Regions from separate parts of the Homo sapiens genome. Here region 2 is linked to region 1. The links come from fine-mapping of genetic effects on gene expression. A gene starts in region 1. The other region holds a variant in brackets. All regions are shown on one strand. Distances are between the middles of the regions.

Region 1 (4,393 bases):
AGCCACTCAAAAAAGCAGAACTTTGTTACTAAGTTTAAAAAAAGAGGCCGGGCATGATGGCAGGCGCCTATAATCCCAGCTACTTGGGAGGCTGAGGCGGGAGGATTGATTGAACCCCGGAGGCGGAGGTTACAGTGAGCTGAGATCATGCCATTGCACTCCAGCCTGGGGAACAGAGTGAGACTCTTTCTCAAATAATAATAATAATAAAAAGATTGATGAACTAAAAATAAAACAAATTCCCAAAAACCAGACTCTACCTAGAGGATCTCTTGGGGTGGTGGTTATGGTTAAAGGTCAACATTATTTCTAAAACTAAACTTAAACTCATGCTCCGTTCCTCTAGCAGTGAAACATAGAGGTTCAAATCATGGATTTGGGGAACCAGGCGGATCTGAGTTGAAGCACAGCTCCACCACTTAGCCGTGTCACCTCAGTCGAGTTACTTGAACCTCTCTGGGTTGGTTCCTCGGCTGTACAACAAGGAATAGTATTAACTGCCTCACTTCAAAGACTTGTGAGGGTTAAAATAATGTGCAAAGTGAAAGGCTAGGCATAATTCCTGACATAGAACTCGATAAGAGGTAGTGGCTATGGCAGTGACTGTGGTCCTGCACACTTCATTCCGAAGCAGCAGCTCCAATTCATTTAAGCTAACAGTTTACACTCTAGACGTAAAGCCTGGTAGGGTTCAAGCGTCCCTAACTCGCCACAAAAACGGACATTTCGGCTTTTTCCCCTAAGATCCAGGAAGGCAGCTCAGGTGTAAGGGGATGAAAAGTACGGAACCCCGAGGACACATCAACTCTACAAAAAGTACCAAGACACACGGTTTGGACGAAATGCCCCTCGCCTTGGCAAACTTTCCACACCTCACCCGGCATGAGAGAAACAGCCTATTCCTAAGGAACGGAGCGCGCACTCCCGACGAGACGCCCGTGCGCTCCCGAGTCCGTTATTGTGTCAACGCTCCCGGGTCTGACAGAAGCCTCCAGGCTCGGCATCCCCGAGGGAGTTGGCCGGAGGCTTCGCGCTTAGGACCCTGGTCTGGAGGCCCCGGGCGTTTCTGGAAACGGGAATTCCGGGGGAGGGGACTGGGGGATGGAGGGAGTCCTGGACGAGGGGTGGGATTACCCGGCTGCCGCTGTCGCCTGGATGGTCTCCGCGGCCGTCCCGGGCATAGTCGGCGCGGGACTCCCCCCGGCTGCTGCCTCTGAAGCCGGCCGGGCCCGGCGGGAAGAGTCGTCGGCCCCGCGGTGGCGACGGGGAGCCGCGACGGGCCCGAGGCGGGGACGGGGAGACGCGACGACCCCGTGGCGGGGACGGCGAGGCCCGGCGGCCGCGGTGCCCTGAGGGCGAGCGGGGTCGGCGAGCCGGGGTCCGCGACGAGGAGCCGGAGGGCGGAGGCGGCGGTGAGCTGCGGCGAGCCGGGCCTGAGGAGGAGCCAGAGCTGCGGCCGCTGCGCGGGCCGCCCCCGCCGTCGTCTTTAGGCCGGTGGGAAGAGACGGAGGAGCGAGCGCTGCTGCGGTACATGGTTCTTGCAGCGGCGGCCACGGCGACAGCTCTGACCCGGGGGCGCCCTAGACGCAGGCTCGGAGCGCGCCGCCGCAGCTGCAGCCGCCGCCACCTCGGCCGCTGCGCGCCGCCTCAGCCGCGGGAGCAGCCCCCTCCCCTCGGCCCCGCGTCGCCCCGGGGGCCCGGCCGAGCGCGCCCCCGCGGCTGGCGGTTGGAGGGCGCGAGCACGCGTCCGACACACCCCCCCCCGCCTCCGGGGTTCCCCGCTCCTCCACTCAGGGAGCGGCCGCAGGAACCAAGAAAAGTGGGGAGGAGCACAGACGCCGGCGCGAGGCTGGGCGAGGGGAGGGGAAGCGAAGCGCGCGCCCTGAGCTCTGCACGCCCCGCCTCCGAATCCTCAAGATGGCGGCCGCAGAGCCGCCCACTTCCCCCTCCCGCGGCCGCCACGTGACCCCTGTGGCCTCCGCGCGGGGTGGGCGGAGCGGAAGGAAGGGCTTCTCTGGAGAGGGATCTGGTTTTCCGGGGATGCTCCAGGCCTCTGGACTTAGGGGTTTGGAGACCGTGCGGAGGTGTCTTCGCTCTTTCGTGCCGCCCCTCAAGCCTCTTAATTTAGGGATGGACACGAAATGGTTGAAAACCATTCGTGATAATATAAACGGGCCTGTAAACGTTAGCTGTGTGGGAGGTTACGGACCCCGGCAGGAGCGCCCACCGAAATCCTGTCCCCAGCTGAAGCAACACGACCCGCATCAGTTTACTTTCCAGTTTGCCTAATTTCTAGAGGTTGAAATTGAGGATAGGAAAGTACGAGGTGGAGGTGGTGGGCCAGAATCAAACCCAAAATAGACGTTGTCAGGCCTCTGAGCCCAAGCTAAGCCATCATATCCCCTATGACCTGCACGTATACATCCAGATGGCCTGAGGCAACTGAAGAGCCACAAAAGAAGTGAAAATAGCCTTAACTGATGACATTCCACCATTGTGATTTGTTCCTGCCCCACCCTAACTGACAGGATATATTCTCCCCCTTGCCCTTAAGTAGGTGCTTTGTAATATTCTCCCCCGCCCTTAAGAATGTACTTTGTACACCTATCCCAAACCTATAAGAACTAATGATAATTCCACCACCCTCTGCTGACTCCTTTTTCGGACTCAACCCGCCTGCACCCAGGTAAGATAAACAGCCTTGTTGCTCACACGAAGCCTGTTTGGTGGACTCTCTTCACACGTTTTCGAGCTGTTTTCTGACTAAAGTACTTGTGGTCATGGTGGAGGTCCTTCATTACCAGGGGCCCACATCATGACCAACTGGAGGCGTGGCAAGTTTTTGTAAGAGATCCAGGCATGCCCCCTCCCCTGGCCTAAGTCCAGAATTTTCCTAGATGCCAATCTCAGGGCCCTGCATCCTAAATACAAAAGTGGGCCAGGCGCAAAGGGTCACGCCTATAATCCCACCATTTTGGGAGGCCGGGGCAGGAGGATTGCTTGAGCCTGAGAGTTCGAGACCAGCCTGGGCAACGTAGAAGGACCTCCATTTCTAAAAAAAAAAAAAAAAAATTTGCCGAGTGTGGTGGCACGTTCCTGTACCCCAGCTACTCGGGAGGTTGAGGCTGCGGTGAGCTGTGATCATGCCACTGCACTCCAGCCTGGGTGACAGAGTGAGACCCTCTCTCAAAAAATACATCCATATATATATATATCCATTTCCATACGTTCTTATAATGGCATATACTCAGTAAAAATGTATAAAATTTTTACTAGTTGACTACTTTTACCCAGCTTCACATTTTATATAATTTATATAAAATAAGAAACCAATAACATTTTAATGAAAAAAATAATAAAAATATGCCAGAGGTGTATGCCCTGTCTTTATTAGAGTATATATGGATTTTGGTTACCCATACTTTTGGTGGGACTTAATAAATGTGAAAAAAATGTAAATCAGTGTGTATAGATACTTGGAGTCAATAAATTTTAAATCATGTTTGTTATATTCTGTATCAACTTTTACTCCTCAACCCATTTCTAATACTGAATATTTTTATCAAAGGAGCTGGGGTGTTTCAAGACAGGGGGAGACACGGTGTATAATCAGAAAACTCTTCTGCTTCCCCTTCACACTTGCTCTATGCATAGTTCTGTATCCTGCATGAAATCTCTTGCAGATCCTTTCACTTTTCAAGTATTTTTCAGTCATGACAGTAGTCATATTGCAGTAGAAAATATATAGTACAGAACAAAACTTTAAACTTTATTCAGGCTAAAGGTTCTCCCCTACCCCTGCTTTTACCTGCTTCAGACTTGAAGCTTGCTATATTAAAAGTGGTATGGTAGGTTTCTCCACATCCCTGCCTTTGCTCCTCAAAGTTTGCTCCTCCTCTCCCACTGGCTAGCTGCTATTTCTGACCCCCTCCTCCCAGGAGGAGAAGGGATTGAAGGGAAAGAACACAGACTTTCCTGGTTAGTGCAGGATGCTGTTACCTTCCAAAATCGGTTCCCTATGGACAAGGAGGAATCACAAATGTTGGCTTTTCTCTCTTATGCACCTTTGTGGGCTTTTTTAGAACTCTCTTGCTGGCAGTGGTCCTCCTCTGGTTCACTGTCTATGACTCCCCTCCCCCAAGTCTTTGGCCTTCTGGAGGAGGTTTACCCCATGTAAAACTCACTCCCGTGGCAGGAGTCCCTTTCCTCTCTGGTTATCTCTCATGGGACGGATCCCTTTTATTTTGTTTTGTTTTTTTTTTTTTTTTTTTTTTTTTTTTTGAGACAGAGTCTCGCTCAGTCGCCCAGGCTGGAGTGCAGTGGCTCGATCTCCGCTCACTGCAAGCTTCGCTTCCTGGGCTCACGCCATTCTCCTGCCTCAGCCTCCCGAGTA
Region 2 (4,393 bases), 24 kb before region 1:
GTGGGCAGATCACTTGAGGCCAGGAGTTCGAGACAGGCCTGGCCAACATGGTGAAACCCCATCTCTACTAAAAATACAAAAATTACCCGGGCATGGTGGTGTGCACCTGTATTCCCAGCTACTCGGGAGGTTGAGGCACGAGAATCACTTGAACCCAGGAGGCGGAGGTTGCAGTAAGATAAGATTGTGCCACTGCACTCCAGCCTCAGCAACAAGTGAGACCCTGTCTCAAAAAAAAAAAAAAAAAAAAAAAAATTTTAACACCGTTAACATGTATCCTTTTTAAAAATATATCAACTTCTTAATATTAAAGTTATCAACAGCAAATACTTTAATATGAATTAATTTATTACCAAGCTGGAACAAGGCACTCAGGAAATGAGAATTTTGGTTAATGTTCAGGAGTAAGGCACAGGAAAAAAAGATAATTTTTGCAACTCAGAGGCTCACTATGAATGGGGTTCTATAGTACACAAGATGAAGAGCTGGGTACCTGGAATATTGGCTCACGCAGGGAAAAAGGTAGGATACAGAAAGGGAAACAATTGGGGCTTCAAAGATACTCTTTCCCTACCTGAGTCCTATTCAAGAATCACTAAAGAAATCACACCAGACAGGCAGGGGATGGGAGAGTTCATACACTCCTGGTGGGAGTATTAACTGGCACCATCTTCTAGAAGATAATCTAGGAATACATTACATACCTCAAAATACTGTATACCCTTTAACCCAGCAATTCACTCCTTGACATTTATCCTATGGAAATTATCATGTCAAACAACAGGTGATTTGATTGGTTAAATAAATTTTGCTTAACCATGCAACCAAAACAACAAAAAATAAGGTTGTTAAAAATGGTATTATAGAAGTGTATTTACTGACATGGAAAGATGTTCATGATATACTGAGAAAACTAATAAAATACACTTGAATAATCAACAAAGATATGTAAATCGGCATACAGCGTTGAATATCACTTTATCCAAAATACTTTCTCTAACCACTCTATACTCCTTATCCTGTTTTCTTTTTTTAGGCACTTCTCATTACCTAACATGGACTTATTTATTTATCATCTTCTGCTATTTAATGAGAATATGAACCTTGTCTATACTGTTCAGTGTGATACTTCCCATATCTAGACCAGTTCCTGACACTTTATTGGTGACCAATACATATTTGTTAAGTGAATTGATGGACAGAATTAATACTTTGGTGTATGTATTTGGAATAACATACACCAAGGTATTAATAATAAATTAATGTATTTGGAATATATAATAATACCTTGGTGTATGTATTTGGAATAACATACACCAAGGTATTAATAATATTATACACCAAGGTATTAATAACAGTGGTCTCGGCTGGGCCCAGTGGCTCATGCCTGTAATGCCAGCACTTTGGGAGGCTGAGGTGGGCAGATTACTTGAGCTTAGGAGTTCGGGACCAGCCTTGGAAACATGGCGAAACCTCAACTCTACAAAAATACAAAAATTAGCCAAGTGTGGTGGTGGTGAGCACCTGTAGTCCCAGCTACTGGGGAGCCTGAAGTGGGAGGAATGCTTGGACCTGAGAGTTGGAGGCTGCAGTGAGCCATGACTGTGTCACTGCACTCAACTTAGGTGACAGAGTGAGACCCTGTCTCAAAAAAAAAAAAAAAAAGTAATAATAACAGTTGTCTCTAGGTAGATGAAATTACAAGTTTGTATGTGCTTTTCTGAAATGAACAGAAAGGGAAAGAAAATCTCAAACCAACTATACATTTTAAAGAGAGGTAAAGAAAGAAGAAATACCAAGGACAGGTAGGAAAGAAAGGCTGTGGACATAATATTCCTTACTGCTGAGATGAAAACTGAATTGTAACATATCCGTTAGTTTCAGAGACCATGAAGACGCACCCAAATCAAGATGACAGATTATCATTGGGTTCGTACATGAATAGAAATCCAATGTATAAGTCAATTACAAAGGACCAGAGCTTTTAAATTCTTCTCCCATCAAAGGCCCTACCTAGACTGAAGACCCAGGTATAAAAGACTAGGCCTACCTGGTTGAGAAAGAAAACTCTCCTAGGAAGACATGGAAAAAAATAGAGCTTGGGTGATAACACAGAATATATTCTCTTTCCTACCTCTCAATATTAACTGAGGATGTACTATGTGCTAGACATATTGTATGCAATGGGAAACACAAAGATAAAAAAGATTCCTCTTTTATCCTCTCGGGCCAGGTGGGGTGGCTCACATCTGTAATACTAGCACTTTGGGAGGCTGAGGCGGGAGGATCATCACTTGAGCCTAGGAGTTCAACACCAGCCTGGGGACGGGCGCAGTGGCTCATGCCTGTAATCCCAGCACTTTGGGAGGCGGGGGCAGGTGGATTACCTGAGGTCAGGAGTTCGAGACCAGCCTGGCCAACATGGTGAAACCGTCTCTACTAAAAATACAAAAATTAGCTGGGTGTGGTGGCACACGCCTGTAACTCCAGCTACTCAGGAGGCTGAGGTAGGAGAATTGCCCAGAAGACAGAGGTTGCAGTGAGCGAAGATCACGCCACACGCCACAGAATAAGACTCTGTTT[CAAA/C]AAAAAAAAAAAAAAAAAAAAAAAAATGCTGGGCAGGGTGGTTCACGCCTGTAATCCTAGCCCTTTGGGAGGCCGGATCACGAGGTCAGGAGTTTGAGACCAGCCTGGCCAATATGGTGAAACCATGTCTCTACTAAAAATATAAAAATTAGCCGGGCGTGGTGGCACGTGCCTGTAATCTCAGCTACTCGGCAGGCTGAGGCAGAAGAATTGCTTGAACCTGGGAGGCGGAGGTTGCAATGAGCCGAGATTGCGCCACTGCACTCCAGTCTGGGTGACAGAGCAAGAACTCTGTCTCAAAAGACCAGCCTGGGCAATATAGCAAGACCCCATCTTTAACCAAAAAAAAAAAAAAAAAAAAAGCAGCTCTCATTTAGTGGAGACAGACGTAAGAAGAGTCTTTAAATAAGACAACGAAATAAATTTTACAAAGAAACAAATTACAGAGTGCTAAAGAAGGCTGACTAGATCTGGGTGGAATTCTGGAAATTCTTCATGGAAGAGGTGGTATCCAAATTGGGCTTTAATGGGTGAGTGGGGTTGGGAGAAAGATTATTCCAGGCTAATAGGATTATTTATGCAAAACCAGAGAGGTGTAATACCAGATATTGCACATCCGGAAAATTGCATTTTGAGGTGACGCAGCGTAAGATGTAATATAATGTTTCTTCAGCAGTATTCATTACTATGTGCTGGGCCCTGGGCTATATATTGGGAATCATATTGAACAATGACACATATAAAGTCCCTGTAACTTTTGAACCTTAAAATCAAATTAGGGGAACACATTTAATTATAAAATCAGATCTGTCATAAATGTTAAGAAGGAAAATTACAAGATATTATGGGAGTGTATATCAGGCAAATTTAACAGTCTAGGGAATCAGAGAAGGATGTCAGGGAAGTAATTTAAGATCCAATCTAAAGGATGAATTGGAGTTAGAAGAGTAGATAAGGAAAGAGTTCGATTTGCATGGTAAAGAAAGGGAACAGAAAATGTGAGGTCACGAGAGGAGATGATACATTTGAGGAATGAAAAGGTTAGTAATGAAACTACAGTCAGCAAGAAGGAAAGAGGCATGAAATGAGGTTGAGGAGGTAGGCAAGGGATTAAGTATCATGATCACTGGCTATATGTGCAAAAAGAGTTAATTAACACAGCAACATAAGCAAAAACTGATGTGGCTTGGACTTGAATGTCAATGGAGATGATAAGGTGCATGGAATCGAGATTTACTTTGGAGAGGGACCTGACAGAATTTGTAATTGATTGCATATGGAGCAGTTAGGGAAAGCAGAGCACTGAGAGTGACTTTTAAGTTGTTGGCATGAAAACTGTCGGACAGTATGCCATTCATTGAGAATGCATAACAATGGAGAAAGAAAAAGTTGGAAGGAGGTTGAGCACAACCATTAATTTAGTTTAGGACATGCTCAATTTCAAGTGCCTATGAGATAATGAAGTGGAAATGGTGAGTTACGTTGTTAGACACTCAGAAGACTCATTTGACTAGAACATAAAACTGGCAATTGTCACATGGCATTTTAGCATAGGACTGGATGAAATGGCCTAGGAAGAAAGAGCAAATTCTGGCAAGGACTGAGCCCCGAGAAACTCAAAAATTTAAAGATTATGCAAGAGAGACAGCAAAGGATACTAAGCAGGAGCATCCAATGTACTACGAGGAAAAGAAGTGTGACAGAAGCCAAGGGAAAAGAGTATTTGTAGGAGAAAGTGATTCTTGGCCTCAAATGCTGCTCATTTGAGAAGTAAAATGTATTTACTGACTTTAGCAACACAGTAGTG

Direction of the effects. Alleles are on the strand shown, and positions count from the first base shown. SD is a standard deviation of normalised expression in the study named.
For the expression in Th1 cells of the gene that starts at base 1,815 in region 1, CAAA is the high allele of the variant in region 2 and C is the other (large effect, 0.81 SD a copy in Schmiedel 2018).

The links. PIP is the estimated chance that this variant, and not a neighbour inherited with it, causes the effect.
Region 2: its variant is the best candidate, but not a certain one, in a credible set for the expression of ZNF318 in Th1 cells (Schmiedel 2018, PIP 0.75).

What each region holds. Positions count from the first base shown.
Region 1 is chr6:43,367,833-43,372,225 of GRCh38, forward strand. It overlaps ZNF318 (zinc finger protein 318), which reads right to left and starts at 1,815. Exons shown (of 10, transcript NM_014345.3): 1 at 1,135-1,815. The coding sequence starts at 1,533. It overlaps LOC124901227 (atherin-like), which reads left to right and starts at 1,532. Exons shown (of 2, transcript XM_047419609.1): 1 at 1,532-1,555; 2 at 1,591-3,509. The coding sequence starts at 1,532. The coding sequence ends at 2,289. RefSeq lists silencers at 1,219-1,288, 1,299-1,488, 1,579-1,778, 1,969-2,068.
Region 2 is chr6:43,343,598-43,347,990 of GRCh38, forward strand. All of the region lies in intron 6 of ZNF318 (zinc finger protein 318), which reads right to left. Among named protein-coding and RNA genes, the nearest start is that of ZNF318, 24 kb to the right of the region's middle. The variant CAAA/C (reference allele first, on the strand shown) is at 2,584.